Homo sapiens: one gene and its partners. The protein of the gene in region 1 interacts with the protein of each later gene in a biochemical or structural test. Each region holds a gene or a part of one and is shown on either strand. Other genes may lie near its edges.

The links.
Region 2: the proteins of RPA2 (region 1) and PHF11 form a complex in vitro, tested with the Homo sapiens proteins (one study listed by BioGRID).
Region 3: the proteins of RPA2 (region 1) and CDC5L form a complex in vitro, tested with the Homo sapiens proteins (one study listed by BioGRID).
Region 4: the proteins of RPA2 (region 1) and TIPIN interact in a biophysical measurement, tested with the Homo sapiens proteins (one study listed by IntAct).

The regions. Positions count from the first base shown.
Region 1 is NC_000001.11:27,900,272-27,905,375, forward strand, and holds part of RPA2 (replication protein A 32 kDa subunit), read right to left. Parts: intron 1-5,104. UniProt on the Homo sapiens protein: As part of the heterotrimeric replication protein A complex (RPA/RP-A), binds and stabilizes single-stranded DNA intermediates that form during DNA replication or upon DNA stress.
Region 2 is NC_000013.11:49,512,953-49,516,452, forward strand, and holds part of PHF11 (PHD finger protein 11), read left to right. Parts: intron 1-106; coding exon 107-214; intron 215-3,500. Other genes in the region: SETDB2-PHF11 protein, read left to right, coding at 107-214. UniProt on the Homo sapiens protein: Positive regulator of Th1-type cytokine gene expression.
Region 3 is NC_000006.12:44,425,706-44,429,205, reverse strand, and holds part of CDC5L (cell division cycle 5-like protein), read right to left. Parts: intron 3,104-3,500; coding exon 3,023-3,103; intron 2,725-3,022; coding exon 2,482-2,724; intron 1-2,481.
Region 4 is NC_000015.10:66,353,886-66,358,031, forward strand, and holds the start of TIPIN (TIMELESS-interacting protein), read right to left. Parts: upstream 2,801-4,146; 5' UTR 2,754-2,800; exon of another isoform or gene 2,258-2,753; intron 237-2,257; exon of another isoform or gene 113-236; intron 1-112.

The DNA.
Region 1 (5,104 bases):
CGGCTAGTTTTTGCATTTTTAGTAGAGACGGGGTTTTACCTTATTGGCCAGGCTGGTGTCAAACTCCTGGCCTCAAGTGATCCACCTGCCTCAGTCTCCCAAAGTGCTGAGATTACACGCATGAGCCACCGCACCTGGCCAACAGCTCTTTTTTAATCTGAAGTATATATTGGGTGGCTGCTTAAGATTTTTTTTTTTTTTTTGAGATAAGGTCTCGCTCTGTCACCCAGGCTGGAGTGCAATGGCACAATCTGGGCTCACTGCTACCTCCACCTTCAGTGGGGCAAGTAACAGCAGATGTGGTGGAAATAGCAGGAGAACTGGAATTAGAAATGGAGCTTAAAGATATAACTGAATTGCTGTAACTTTATGGTAAAACTTGAGTGGATGAGGAGTTGCTTCCTTTTTTTTGAGACTGAGCCTCACTCTGTTACCCAGGCTGGAGGGCAGTGGCACAATTTTGGCTCACTGCAACCTCCATCTCTCAGGTTCAAGTGATTCTCCTGCCTCACCCTCCCGAGTAGCCAGGATTACAGGCATGTACCACCATGCCCAGCTAAATTTTTTATTTTTAGTAGAGACGAGGTTTCACCATGCTGGCCAGGGTGGTCTCAAACTCCTGACCTCAAATGATCTATCTGGCCGCCTGGGCCTCTCAAAGGAGTTGCTTCTCATGGATGAGCAAATAAACTGGTTTCTTGAGATGGAATCTCCTCCTAGTGAAGATGCTGTGAACATTGTTAAAACGACAATAAAGGATTTAGACTACTCCATAAGTTTAGTTGAGAAAGCAGTAGCAGGGTTTGAGATTGAATCCAATTTTGAAAGAAGTTATACTGTAAGTAAAATGCTATCAAACAGCATGATATAATATCGAGAAATTTTATGTGAAAAGGAGACTCAGTTACTCAGGCAAACTTTGTTGTCTTATTTCAAGAAATTGCCACAGCCAGCTCAACCTTCAGCCAACTACCACCCTCCTCAGTCAGCAGCCATCAACAGTGAGGCAAGAATGTCCACTAGCAAAAACATTATGAATTGCTGAGGGTTCGGATAACTGATTATTACAATTTGTTAGCCATAAAGTTTTTTTTTTTCTTCTTTTTTTGAGAGACAGTTTCGCTCCTGTTGCCCAGGCTGGAGTGCAATGGCGCGATCTCAGCTCACTGCAACCTCCACCTCCTGGGTTCAAGCGATTCTCCTGCCTCAGCCTCCCAAGTAGCTGGCATTACAGGTGCCCACAACCACACCTGGCTAATTTTTGTATTTTTAGTAGACAGGGCTTCACCACATTGGCCAGGCTGGTCTTGAACTCCTGACCTCAGGTGACCCTCCCGCCTCGGCCTCCCAAAGTGCTGGGATTATAGACGTGAGCCACCGCGCCCAGCCACCATAAAGTATTTTTTAACTAAAACAAACAAACAAAAAAAACAAACTTTGGGACTAGTAGAAGCTTCCGAAAGGTAAACTAGAAAAAACTGCACAATTTATTTTTCAAAATTATTTCTTTTTGAGATAGGGTCTTCCCATGCTGCCCAGGCTGGTCTTGAAATTCTGGCCTCAAGTGATCTTCCTGCCTAAGTCTCCTGAAGTGCTAAAGTTACAGGTGTGAGCCACTGTGCCTGGCCTCATTATAAGAGGTCACTATAATCATTTTCAAGTTCTTGCAAACAAAAACACTGTTAGGGGAAGGGGAATCAAAGAGAAAATTTACAAAAACCCCACAAATTGACATTAAACATAGTAAAAAAAAAAATACATATATATGGCTAAAACCAAAGAAATACACATAAAAAAATGACAAAATTTTCACTGAAAAGACTATTTTTTTCTGAGATGGAATATTGCTCTGATGCCCAGGCTAGAGGGCAGTGACGCAATCTTGACTCACTGCAACCTCCATCTCCCAGGCTCAAGCAATTCTCCTGCCTCAGCCTCCCGAATAGCTGGGACTACAGGCACGTGCTACCATGCCCTGCTAATTTTTTAATTTTTTTTATTATTTTTACGTATACTTTTTTTTTTTTTTGAGACAGTCTTGCTCTGTTGCCCAGGCTGGAGTGCACTGGTGTGAAGATCTCCGCTTACTGTAACCTCTGCCTCCTGGGTTCAAGCGAGTCTTGTGCCTCAGCCTCCCGAGTAGCTGGGACTACAGGCGTGCACCACCATGCCAGACTAATTTTTTTATTTTTAGTAGAGACTGGGTTATACCATGTTGGCCAGGCTGGTCTCAAACTCCTGACCTCAGGTGATCCACTCATCTTGGCCTCCCCAAAGTCCTGGGATTACAGGCATGAGCCACCGCACCTAGTCAAAAAGACTATTTTTTAAAACAACTATCACACTGGCAAAAATTTAAGACAAAAACCCATTGTTATAAAGGGTATGGAGGATAGGCACAGAGGCTCACACCTGTAATCCCAGCACTTTGGGAGGCTGAGGTGGGAGGATTGCTTAAACCCAGGAGTTTGAGACCAGCCTATTTCTTAAAAAAAAAAATGTTAAGGGTATGGAAACTAACTGGGCACTCTCATGCATGACTGAAGCGTAAACTGGTACCTTTAGAGAAGACAGTACAAAAATGCAAAAACTAAGATGTTAAAAAAATGTCAAATGTGTATTTCCCCCCAGAAAACCTACTTTTAGGAATACATCTTATGATTATTTTATTTTTTTGAGATGGAGTTTTGCTCTTGTTGCCCAGGCTGAATGCAATGGCACGATCTTGGCTCACTGCAGTCTCTGCCTCCCAGCTTCAACTGATTCTCCTGACTCAGCCTCCCGAGTAGCTGGTATTATAGGTGTGTGCCACCACGCCCAGCTAATTTTGTATTTTTAGTAGAGATGGGGTTTCACCATGTTGGCGGTGCCGGTCTTGAACTCCTGACATCAGGTGATCCACCTGCCTTGGCCTCCCAAAGTGCTGGAATTACAGGCGTGAGCCACGACGCCTGGCCTTACGATTATTTTATAATCATGAAGAAATGTATGCAAAGATACTCACTGGAGCATTGTATATAATAGCAAACGACTGAAAAGAAGTTAAATGTTGTTCCCTGACTGGGTCCACTGTTAAGTAAGGGATGATGTATTCTTATAATGGAATCGGTGGTCATTTAAAATGATAGATGTAAATCTTTACAGATAACATTAAAAAATCAGTTCTTGGCTGGGCCATGGTGGCTCAAGCCTGTAATCCCAGCACTTTGGGAGGCTGAGGCAGGATCACCTGAGGTCAAAAGTTCGAGACCAGCCTGGCCAACATGTTGAAACCCCGTCTCTACTAAAAATACAAAAATCAGTTGGGTGTGGTGGTGCACGCCTATAGTCCCAACTACTCGAGAGGCTGAGGCAGGAGAATCGCTTGAACCCGAGAAGCAGAGGTTGCAGCGAGCCAAGATTGCACCAATGCACTCCAGCCCGGATAACACGAGTGAAGCTCAGTCTCAAAAAAAAAAAAAAAAATCAGCTCCTCACCAGGCACGGTGGCATCAGCCTATAGTTCCAGCTACTTGGGAGGTTAAGGCCAAAGGATCACTTGAGCCCAGGTTTGAGGCCAGCCTAGGCAGCAAGCCAAGACCCTGTCTCTATTTAAAAAAAAAAAAAAAAAAAAAAAAGGCCAATGGCTCATGCCTATAATCCCAGCACTTTGGGAGGCCAAGGCAGGTGGATCACCTGAGGTTGGGAGTTCGAGACCACCCTGACCAATACAGAGAAACCCTGTCTCTAATAAAAATACAAAATTAACCAGGTGTGGTGGCACATGCCTGTAATCCCAGCTACTCTGGAGGCTGAGGCAGGAGAATTGCTTGAACCTGGGAGGCGGAGGTTGTGGTGAGCTGGAGATCGCGCCATTGCACTCCAGCCTGGGCAACAAGAGCACAGCTCCATCTCAAAAAAAAAAAAAAAAATCAGTTCCACAACATAATTTTGAGTGAAAAGAGCAAATTACTTAGCAGTTGCATAGCATATTATCCCTTCTACAGTAAAAGAGGTATGTGGACACCTGTATGTACATATATGCAGAGACAGATGTCTGAAAGGGTATTTTCCAAAATGTGTCGTAATAGTAGTTCTTTAAGAGACATGAGATGTCAGGTGATTTTTTAAATGGTTTATAAGCAAGCATAGTGCATTTTATATGAACAAGTAGTATTAGGTATCCATAGTATCTACCTCCCTGCTTGATGGCAGGGACTGTGTCTACCTCATTCTTTTTATACCTGGAACCAAGCACAGTCTAGTTCAGAATTGGTACTCCAACAATAACTGCTGAATGAATTATCCTTTATTTTTCTGAGAAGGAAAAAATTTAAAAATTACATAACTACCAAGTTATTTCTCTATAGATAACTTGTGGTTTTTGAAGGAGAACCGCATTTTTTTTTTTGAGTCAGTCTTGCTCTGTTGCCCAGAGCAACAGAGCAGTGCGCAATCTGCTGGAGTGCAGTGGCGCAATCTTGGCTCACTGCAACCTCTGTCTCCTAGGTTCAATCAATTTTTCTGTCTCAGCTTCTGGGTAGCTGGGATTACAGGCACCCAGCTCATTTTTGTATCATTAGTAGAGATGGAGTTTCATCACGTTGGCCAGGCTGGTTTCAAACTTCTGACTTCAGGTGACCCGCCAGCATTGGCCTCCCAAAGTGCTGGGATTACGGGCGTGAGTCACCATGCCCAGCCTAAAACAGTCTTTATTATCCAAATTTTCTGTAATGAATGTATTTCAAAAACAAAATACAAAACACCAAGAGGCCTTCTGCACAATTGAAAAATAAAAGGATAAAAAGTATATACTGTATTTCAGTCTATTTTATCCATGTTTATAAAGACACTTATATATATGCTGCTTTGTAAAAATTGGGTCAAATCCTGCATACCACATTGTAATATGCTTTTCTCAACAATTTATGGCAAACACTTCTTTGTGGCAATACACGCTTTTCTGTATCATTTGTAGTATGTTATAAATGTGTCATGGTTTACTTAATAATCCTTTATTGCTAGTATTTTGAGATTGCTTTATTTTTATTTATTCATTTTGAGACAGAGTCTTGCTCTGTCGCCCAGGCTGGAGTGCAGTGGCATGATCTCGGCTCACTGCAAC
Region 2 (3,500 bases), on another chromosome or scaffold:
CCATTTCCCACTCCTGGTTTGATTTTCCACTTTTGGTATGATTTTCTGACATGTAGCTTTCAATATTACTTTGTGCATACTCTGGATTTTTTTTTCCAATCTGCAGCTGTATTCTTCAGGACTTGTGGAATGTGAGGATCAGGATCCACTTAATCCTGATAGAAGTTTTGATGTGGAATCAGTAAAGAAAGAAATCCAGAGAGGAAGGAAGTTGGTAAGTGTAAATGATGTTATTTCTTATACTGGATGAACAGACCCTCAAGGAATGCATTCCAAAGGAGTCTATTTGACTGATACACCAGGGATAGAGAAGCATCTTGGAGAGCTGGAAGAAGTAGGAACTGTATTGGAAACCTCAATTCAACTTAACATTTAATTTTTTTTTTTTTTTTTTTGAGACGGAGTTTTGCTCTTGTTGCCCAGGCTAGAGTGCAGTGACACGGTCTCAGCTCACTGCAACCTCCGCCTCCTGGGTTCAAGCGATTCTCCTGCCTCAGCCTCCCGAGTAGCTAGGATTACAGGCACGGGCCACCATGCTCGGCAAATTTTTGTATTTTTAGTAGAGACAGGGTTTCACCATGTTGGCCAGGCTGGTCGCGAACTCCTGACCTCAGGTGATCTGCCTGCCTTGGCTTCCCAAAGTGCTGGGATTACAGGTGTGAGCCACCACGCCCGGCCAACATTTAATATTTTAAAATAAACTACCATATACTTCACCAGTAAAGTGATCTGAGTTAGAATGCTTTTGCTGTAAGTAGAAGAAAGCTCAAGTCAAACAGACTTTTACAAAGAGGATACTTACTTTTTCACTTGATCAGAGAAAACACCTGCTTTCCAAGTTGGTTGATTGAGTGGCTTGATAATGTCATCAGGGGCCCAGGTTCTTCCTCTCTGGCCTCCTGTCCCCAACATCAGCTGGTCCCATTGTGGTCATAGGGTGGCCGCAGGCAGCAACTGAAGCATCAGGCTTTCTTGTTCATACCCAGTGAAAGACAAAGGTCATCCATACACATGGAATAAGCCCCCTTCTGAAAGTTTCATTAGGTTGCACCCCTCTTTCTGCACCAACTGCTGGGGGTGGCCATAACTAATCAGGGGTCAGCTCCTCATGGGTCATAAGGGGGCTATTCAAGGAGGAAGAAATGCTGAGAAGTCATTCCACTGGGCTTATTGCAGCGACATCCTCTCAAGGACCCTTCACATCTTAGCAAGCAGGACAGCAAGTGTGAGCACCTCACATTCTGACTACAACCACAGGGTTAATAACCAGGGACAAATGTATAGTTAGTCTTTGCAAGGCATCAGCATCAGCAGCATCCTGTGGTAGGTGTGTTACATACATTGCTCTAGGTAAACTCCCAGCTATAGGTAAAATGATGCCCATTTTAATCGAAGAAATGGAAAGTGCAGGGTGAAAGGCAACAGTCCAGATGGAATTCTGCAAATTATGCTATCTTAGGCAGTGTACACAATACTGTAGTAGGTCCTGAAGCAAGCCATAAAAATGGACTGTGTGTGGCCCGGGCATGGTGCTGCATGCCTCTAATCCCAGCACTTTGGGAAGCCAAGGCAGTTGAGGACTGCTTGAGCCCAGGAATTTGAGACCAACCTGGGCAATATAGTGGGACCCTGTCTTTACCAAAAAAGAAAAAAAAATTAGCCCGACACAGTGGCATATACCTGTAGTCCCAGCTACTTGGGAGGCTGAGGTAGGAGGATTGGGTGAGCCTGGAAAGTCGAGGCTGCAGTGAGCTGTGATCACACCACTGTACTCCAGCCTGGGCAACAGAGTGAGACTCTGTCTCAAATTAAAAAAAAAAAAAAAGAGTGTGTGGATCCTGCTCTCAATGTCTATGCTATTACTAATTAATACTTGGCAAGACTGGCTGCTGACATCATTAGTGCTGACAATGCCACATCCCTAGGATTTTGGGTGTGATGAGATGGGTGAACTGATTAGAAAGTAGCAGACAGACCTCAACTGGAATATTTTTTTGCTCTTCACTAATTGGATTTGAGTGGGGAGACACAGAGTTAAAGAAATCTCTGTGAAATTCTAGTAGCCATCCAGTTATGAAGAGACCCAGGCTGAGAAATGAGGGCAGTTGATTGGAGGCATAATATTTGGGGGAAAGCAGGTACCTGAGGGTTTCTGCGGACCTTGGGATGCAGACTTCCCTACTGGGAAGGCTTTGGGATGGGTTGGAAGTGGAGGATAAAGGAGAGAAGAGAGGAAAGTCACCTGAGGTAATAGTTACCCTCTCACAGCATTTATGGAACTCTTGGACTATGTGGGCAGATACATGGCACACACCCAGGGTGGGGACAGGCCAGTGCTGTGGTATTTTCAGTAAGCTGGGCAAGTACCTTGAGGGTGAGCAGCAGGGGCCCTCAGCAAGCAGGCTCCTCCCTAGGATTCAGACTACCAATCTGACAGAGCCACATGGACATCCAATAGCATTTCAGAGTAAAGTGGCCAAAAAAGTACAGTTCCATCTCCTATACACACACACACACACACACACACACACACACACACACACACACACACATTCTCCATCTAAATCTGCTCATAAAAACAGCACTATCATTATCCATTTGCCCAAGCCAGAAGTCTAAGGACTCTCTTTTCCTCGTCAACCTCCCAGCCCAACACCAAGCCCATGGGCACGAACTCCTAGGTGCATCTTGCATTCATCCACCCACTTCTCTCAGCGTCAGTAATCCACCATAGCGGAGTCACCCATCTTGTTCTCTAAAGCGAGTACTGACACTCGCCCGACTGTCTCTCCTGCCATCCCTACCCCAGCCCGTAGTTCTCCACCCAGCAGCAGCCCAGCAGCCTGAGTGATCTTTCAATAATGTTAATCAGTTTATGTTCCCCGTGCAGAAAGATAAAACCCAACTCCTTACTCTGGCATGTAAGTCCTACGTGACCCAGCCCTTACTTACCCCTTTGATCATCCTGAGACTTCCCTGTGCCCACTTCGCTGCTCCAACAGCACTGGCCATCTGTCTTGTCCTCGCTGTAGCTTGCCAATGGGGAAGCTCATTCTTGCGGCCAAGACCCAAGGCCCTCTGCTTAGAATGTCTTTCCTCCTCCTTTTTGCATCTGGGAGCTCTTACTATTATTCAGATCTCAGCTTCCATATCACCTCCTTAGAGGTGACCCATTTTACTAACTGCCCAGTCTGAAGTAGGGACCCAGTGACACTGTCACTTCACCCTATTTTAATTCGATATAATGTGTATATAACTTTGTGAGACGTTTTAAACTTTGCTTTATTTGATCATTGTACCTTGTCTCCAATAGAATGTAAGCTTCACGTGGACAGGCATCTTTTCTGCTTTGTCCACTACTGTTTTCCCTTATCCTAAAACCATGCCTGCCACATCATAGCTACTGCATGCTAAATAAATACTATATACTCATGTATTTTTAAATGAATAAATGTTTATTAGCCATTTGTATTTTTTCTTCTGTAATTTGCCAGTTACCA
Region 3 (3,500 bases), on another chromosome or scaffold:
TACTAAAAATGTAAAAATTAGTAGGACGTAGTGGCACATGCCTGTAATCCTAGCTACTCAGGAGGCTGAGGCACAAGAATCCCTTGAACCCAGGAGGTGGAGGCTGCAGTGAGCTGGGATCGTGCCACTGCACCCCAGCCTGTGCAACAGAGTGAGACTCAGTCTCAAAAAAAAAAAAAAAAAAAAAAAAGCTAATGAAACTAAGGCTCATAGAGATTCAACCACTTGTTAAGACCACATCGTTAGTAGGCAGATGAGGCAGAATACAAATGGCACCACTGGGTGTGCCCCTTCCACTCTCCCACTCCACCATGTGTGCAGGACCTCACGTGATGGTAAAGGGGAGCTAGGCATCTTTTTGTCACATGGCATTTTTCTCATCCTGAAGGAATGCCCTGACATTGCCAGATAATGAGACTGGGGCACGAATTAGATGATAGATCATAAACCAGTTTAGTTCACTACTAAAGAAAATAGTGTAAAATGACAGAATGAGAGGGAAAGCTGGACAGGCCTGGGTTCAGATCACAGCTTTACCATTGAAGCAGCTCTTTGAGCTTGCTTAATTTATCTGAGCCCATTTCTCAGGGCTTTTTCAGCCTGGAAAGCTGAAAAACAGCTTTCCAAGCAATGATGATGCTGACCTTAGATCAGATGTGTTTGTTATTAGGATTAAGTGAACAATATACTATAGAGCCTAGCCCAATGCCAGACACACAGAATTCCATAAGCATATGAATTTTTTCCCAGCCCTTTGCTTCATGGCTTATGAAAAACTGGGAACCACCTTCTGTGCCTTACAGAAGGCTTTCAATCTTTCCAGTAATAATGAAAATAAACACATCAAAATCTACAAAATCAAGAGAAATGATTGATAAACAAAAAATTTTAACAAAAGAAACGGAAAATCATCTCTATAGAAGAAAAAATGGACACTTAATACCTTAAGGGAAATAATGGAAACAAATCAATGTTAACATATCTTAAAGTATATTAAAGAAAAAGAAAATCTGACAGTTTATTAAAAGAGAAATGCTATTTCACTCTGAAACTGCACAGAGTAAAAATTTACAAGTTCAGATCTTATAATCATTACGAGAGAATATGGCTAAGTTATCTTTAAACTATCCATAAATAATCTGCTAACTAAATAGCTGCTTCAAATTCTTTTTGGAACAAAGAGAGATATACACAGATAAAATATGAGAGAATATTTAAGCTACTTTGTTTCAAACAATTACAAACCAATACTTAGAATTATTATTTTTCAAAAATTGTGTTAGGGTTTACCCTCTACAGAATCTCCAAAAGCAACAATGTGATCCTTGTTTTAGGTTTCCATACATACAATTTAGGAAAATTTATTTCCTAAATTCCTCTTCCCCTCATATTTTCACTTTCAAAAGAGGAAACTGTGCAAGTATCAATTTCGTAGCCTGATTCTCAATCCCAGTTCAATGATTAAATGTGCTCGACAGAGTAGGCAACTCAACAGATGTTAGTTTCCCTACTGCACTTACTAAAAAATGAGTGACTCAGTTATTCTGAAATCAGGGACAAGTTATTGAAATATAAATCGAAACCCTCCTTCCTTTCTCTATTTTCTAAAAATCCTATAATAAATAATGTATTACTTATGCAATAAAGAAAACACAAAGTAAGAAATTGTGAAAAGCGAAGAAAGAGGAAGAATGCAGGAGAGAAGACAGGAGAGTTTGTAAGAATCTTGTTTGTTTTATCCTAAGTATACAGCAGCTCATTCCAAATCCATAGGTCTATCACTGCTCCTCAGGGCTGAAGGCTAAAGAAAAAAAGACTTTTAAGCTAATGACCACTCTGCTTCCAACGATGAGACCCACTGTATCTTCTTATACAATTATGGAGATTTCTATTTACAATCACAGTTGTTTGCTCTGTCAAAACAGAAGGAATAAAATGCATGTAGAAGAAAAGACCAGATACAGACTTCATATAAGAAATCATTTCTTCATGTCCTTATCCAAAAGAGTAGGGGGAAATCATGTGAGGGGAATATATTCAGTAAAAAAAATACTTCCTTCCTTTCAATAGCTAAAAGGTTTAATCTATAAACATTTTTATATTAGTCTCTCTCACCTCTTCATATTATTCTAAATAAGTGATGTTTAAGTACTAAAGGCATCTAATTTTTATTCAGAGATAGCAGAGCTGAATACAGAAAACGGCAACTGTAACAACTGTCAACGAAGCCATTAATACCCATGAACCAAAAACACCCTGGCGGTGTTTATTTGCTAAAGGTCTATCACACTGAACACGGGGGATGGAGGTATTTAAAGCATGTCCTTTTCATAACACTTAATCTAAACATGCATCTCCTAATCATACATTTCAGTTGTTTATGAATACCAACAGGGAAAAATAAGTTCATTATTTGTCCATGATACACAGCACCTAACAACTACCTAAATCTCAAGAAGAAATATTCCAGCTCAATCATACCTTTTTCAGCTCTTCTTTGGAGAACTTTTCATAAGGATTATGTTCCAGATAGGTAATGTGCTCTGAATTATTGGTACCAAACCCTACAGTTTTGCCTTTTTTATTTCCAGATGGTTCATAAGGGTGATGTAGAAGGTCATAATGAAGCATTGTGATCATTTCTTTTTTGATTAGTTCTTCACTTTTCTGTAAATCTGTTAAAGGCGGTTCTACATTTAAGGGTCTTAGAATAGTTTCATTTACCTAAAATTTTAAAACAAATACAATTACCAAACATATCACTATAATATATTAATGTTATTACCTGTTACAGCATGAATTAAACAGCGGTTTTACATTTTCAAAAGCAATTTCCATTTTTTTCCTTCTAAATTCTTTCTGGTACTACTGAAACATTTTAAAGATTGGATTTGAGAACTACTTTGCTATATTCCAGAAAGTAGATGAAATTTTGTTTTATAGTCTTTATGAATGATGTAAAACGCAGCAATCATATAAAAAGAAACTTAAAACTTCCTAAACCAGAAATTCTAACACTTACTTCTGATGGTCTTGGCAGATCTTTCTGGACAGCTTTATGCATTCGTTTCATTTCCTTTACACGCTCTGCATCTCGTATGGCCTAAAAAATGATTTTTATATCCTTTATTGCAGCTATAGCGTATTTGATATCTCTCAGTAAAGCTAAAAACACTTTGGTATGTAAGATCATGTGTGTTCAATAGCTAAAGTTTAGAAATCGGTTTAAGTTTGTAGAAAGGCAATGCTAAGGCAACAGAAATGAATCAGTCTATTCACTCTCATTATAATAGAAACTAAGAGCTTCCAATGTCTACTAGAGCATTCTCCAAACTTGCATGGATCCATATCACGTAACAAACTTTTCTCATCTAAATGGAAAACCTAAACTCCAAAGAGACTCCCACGACAAAACTCTTTCTTCCCTTTCACTCCAAAATTACTGACTTTTAACTCAAAAAGCCAGCCAAAAAATGTATTGTTTCCTGATTCTTATGAAT
Region 4 (4,146 bases), on another chromosome or scaffold:
AGAGGCAGACGGACCATGAGGTCAGGAGTTCGAGACCAGCCTGGCCAACACAGTGAAACCCCGTCTCTACTAAAAATATAAAAAAAATTTAGCCAGGTGTTGTGGCACGCACCTGTAGTCCCAGCTACTCAGGAGGCTGAGGCTTTCCTCCCTTTCTGGGCACTCCTCCTGGATTTTCTTTGCAGGTTTATCTTCTACCCCGGCCATTAAGTATCCAAGACTCCATCCTAGGGCTTCTTCATTCATTTATGCACAGAGCTTTAATAAGTACTGATTTATAGATGACTCCCTGATTTTTATCTCTACCCTAGGCCTTGACTCTGCGATCCAGATCACTACTTCCCATTTTACACTTCCTAAACGCCTGAAAGGCACCTGTAACTCAGCAGGTACAAAACCAAACTTCTAAATTTTCCTAACTCATTAAATGACATCTATCCAGCTATGCAATTCAGAAACCTACAAGTCATCTTTAGCAATTCCTTCCCCTATCCCACAGATCCTGCCCATCTTATTTCCTAAATATCCCTTGAATCTGTCTATTTCTCCTTATCTCTATAACCACTTCCCAACATTTCTTGCTTGCATTACTCCACTACTCTCATCCACTCGTCTCCTTCAATTGTCCCTATTACATCTAGACTGAATCTGAAAATATAAAGCTGATCACCTCACTTGGATTAAGTATTTCAATGGTTTCTGATTGCTCTTAAGATAAAGACAAAACTTCAAGGCCCTGTGTGATCCAGCCTCTTACTACCTCACCAGTCTCACTTCACACTACTCTATGCTTTTTCTTTCCTTGAAAGAGCTATATCCCTCAGGCCACTGGCTCTTTACAAATACTATTTCCTGTCTTGAAAAAGCTATTCCTTGACTCCTAATATCTTCCAGATCTCAACTATCACCTTTTCAAAAGTTTACCTCAATTTCTCTAAATCCTTCTTTAGTAAGCATTCATAGTGTCAAGTACAAGTGTCATGGCACTTATCCAGTTTCAATATCAGGTTTTATTTATACAGTTATTTATTGTTCGTCTCCCAAACTAGACTGTAGCTCAAAAAGGGCAACGAGGTTAAGTCTCTCTGTGTTACACAGCTGGAACCCCAATGCTGTTACACAGCAAGTGCTCAATATATATCTTTTTTTTTTTTTTTTTTTTTTGAGAAGGAGTCTCGGGCTCTGTCACCCAGGCTGGAGTGCAGTGGCGCGATCTCTGCTCACTGCAAGCTCCGCCTCCCGGGTTCTCGCCATTCTCCTGCCTCAGCCTCCCGAATAGCTGGGACTACAGGCGCCTGCCACCACGCCCGGCTAATTTTTTGTATTTTTCATAGAGACGGTGTTTCACCGTGTTAGCCAGGATGGTCTCGATCTCCTGACCTCGTGATCCGCCCGCCTCGGCCTCCTAAAATGCTGGGATTACAGGCGTGAGCCATCGCGCCCGGCCCCAGGTGCTCAATATATATTTGATGAATGATGGAATGCAAAAAAAAATTCCAGTTTCCCCAAATTGGAGTTAGACGATCTTTAAAATCTCACTAATTCTAAATTTCGGTTACCATAAATATAAAAGCAAAGCATCGGCTGGGCGCGGTGGCTCACGCCGGTAATCCCAGCACTATGGGAGGCAGAGGCGGACGGATCATGAGGTCAGGAGTTCGAGACCAGCCTGGCCAACACAGTGAAACCCCATCTCTACTAAAAATACAAAAAAAATTAGCGGGGCGTGGTGGCACACGCCTGTAGTCCCAGCTACTCGGGAGGCTGAGGCAGGAGAATCATTTGAACCCAGGAGGCGGAGCTTGCAGTGAGCCGAGACCGCGCCACTGCACTCCAGCCTGAGCGAAAGAGCGAGACTCCGTTTCAAAACAAAAACAAAGCATCAATTCCTGATCATGACCCACTGTAACTTCAAGCAAGCTACAAGAATCTATACTAGGGTTCAGACCTTTGAGGCTGACAGCGAGCTTTGAGTTTGATGACAGTACCTAAAATATATTAAGTGTACTCAGGAACTGGCCAAGCATGGGGTGGGGCTTGTCAGGAAACTGGTATTTCTTTCTTCTATTTGTAGTGAATAAGATGCTCAATAGACGACTTTTACTCCTCGTCAATGGTCGCATAACTGTCTCTTTTTAGACACTTATGAAATTGTCTGAACTTCCTCCTCTACTTCTCCAACTCCCAGAAGAGTGAAGGTAACAAATGTTATGTCCAAACCACGGTTTGTTCCCAGACCCTGGTTTCCAATGCCCACCTCTTTTCCAAGAAGTCCAAAGAGACGCCCCTCATCGCAAAGGAAGTGCTACCGTGCTGCCTCGATGTCCCCCTTGGGTGCCATCCCTGAAACATCGAACCTCCCATACCTCTTCTCCAGCCGTCCCCCTCATCCTCGTTCCCCGCCTACCCTCTCTTCAACTTCATTCATTCATCCAACATTCGCTGGGGGATTTCTACATTGACACGCCCCGGACAGAAGCCTGGGGTAAAGATGATCAGGAACACGTTCCCTCCCGCTAAGCGGCTTGGCAGAGTAAGAGGCATCCCAAAACCTAAGCAACCGGGACACGCGCCCACCTCCCCGCCTCTCCAGGCCGGGTCAGGTCGACCCCCCAACCTCCTGACCCCCTTCCTGCGACAATTAGGCTTTCCCGCTAGTCTGTCTGGCTCCCTGGCTCTTCCATCTGGCTCCCTGGCTAGTCCGACTCCCCTCTCCCCGCAAGAACTTCATTGGCCCGCCAGCCAGCTCTCACCTCACGCAGAAAACACGGGACACAGCGCGGACCTCGGCGTGCAGACTAAGCGCGCTTCTCGCGATACTCGGGAACTCCTGGGGCGAGAAGGGCCCGCAGCGTTTGGCGCCAAATCCGTGCGGGGGGCTGGGCGGAGCCTGCAAAACCCGCCTCTCAGGTTCCGCCCAGCACGCCGGTCCCGCCTTCGGTCCCACAATTTCCGCCCTACTGAATTCTTCAGAGGAACTCAGTTAAGCCTCCTTATTTGCATAAAGTTAATACTTGTTATTCTGGGGTTTTTCTTTTTTTTTTTTCTTGAGACTAAGTCTCGCTCTATCACTCAGGCTGGAGAGCAGTGATTCGATCTCGGCTGACTACAGTCTCTACCTCCCGGGCTGAAACGATCCTCCCACCTCAGCCTCCCTTCCCCGACTAACACCACCACACCGAATTTTTGTTTTAATGGGTTTTTGTTTGTTTGTTTGTTTGTTTTGCAAAGACGGGGATTAGTTGCCCAGGCTGGTGTCGAACTCCTTAGCTCAAGCGATCTTCCCACCTCAGCTTCCCAAAGTGCTGGGATTACAGGCGTGAGCCACTGTGCCCGGCACTTTAAACCTTGGAAATAGGTCTCGGTTTTTGGAAAACTGAGTTGTGGGAGGAGGAAAAAGGACAGAGGCAAGCAATAGTGAATAAGAAATTACCGCTTCTTCAGAGTTCATAGCAGAATGCTTCGAACTCAGAGTTTTATGAATTGTTTATTGAATAATAAGCTGAGAAAAGAGGTGGTAAAGAGAGGAAAAATAGGGCTGAACATAGACACTGGCCAGGTGCGGTGTGGCTCGCCTGTAATCCCAGCACTTTGGGAGGCCCAGGCAGGCGAATGGCTTGAGCCCAGAAGTTGAAGGCGGCAGTGACTAGGATCGCACTGCTGGCGATCCAGCTGGAGATCCAGTCTGGGTGACAGTGAGATCTTGTCGCAAAAAAAAAAAAAAAAAAAAAAAAAAAAGCGAGAGAGTGTGAATGTAAACAAAAAAAAATGTCAAAAATATGTTACTTGGGGCCGGGTGCAGTGGCTCACGCCTGTAATCCCAGCACTTTGGGAGGCCGAGGCGGGCAGATCACGAGGTCAGGAATTCGAGACCAGCCTAGCCAACGTGGTGAAACCCCATCTCTACTAAAAATACAAAAATTAGCCGGGCGTGGTGGCGCGCACCTGTAATTCCAGCTACTTAGGAGGCTGAGGCAGGAGTATCACTTGAACCTGGGAGGCAGAGGTTGCAGTGAGCTGAGATCATGCCATTGCACTCCGGCCTGGGCGACGGAGCAAGACTCTGTCTCAAAAAAAAAAAAAGTTATTTGGTCAGACTTGGTGGCTCATGCCTGTAATCTTAGCACTTTGAGAGGCTGACGCAGG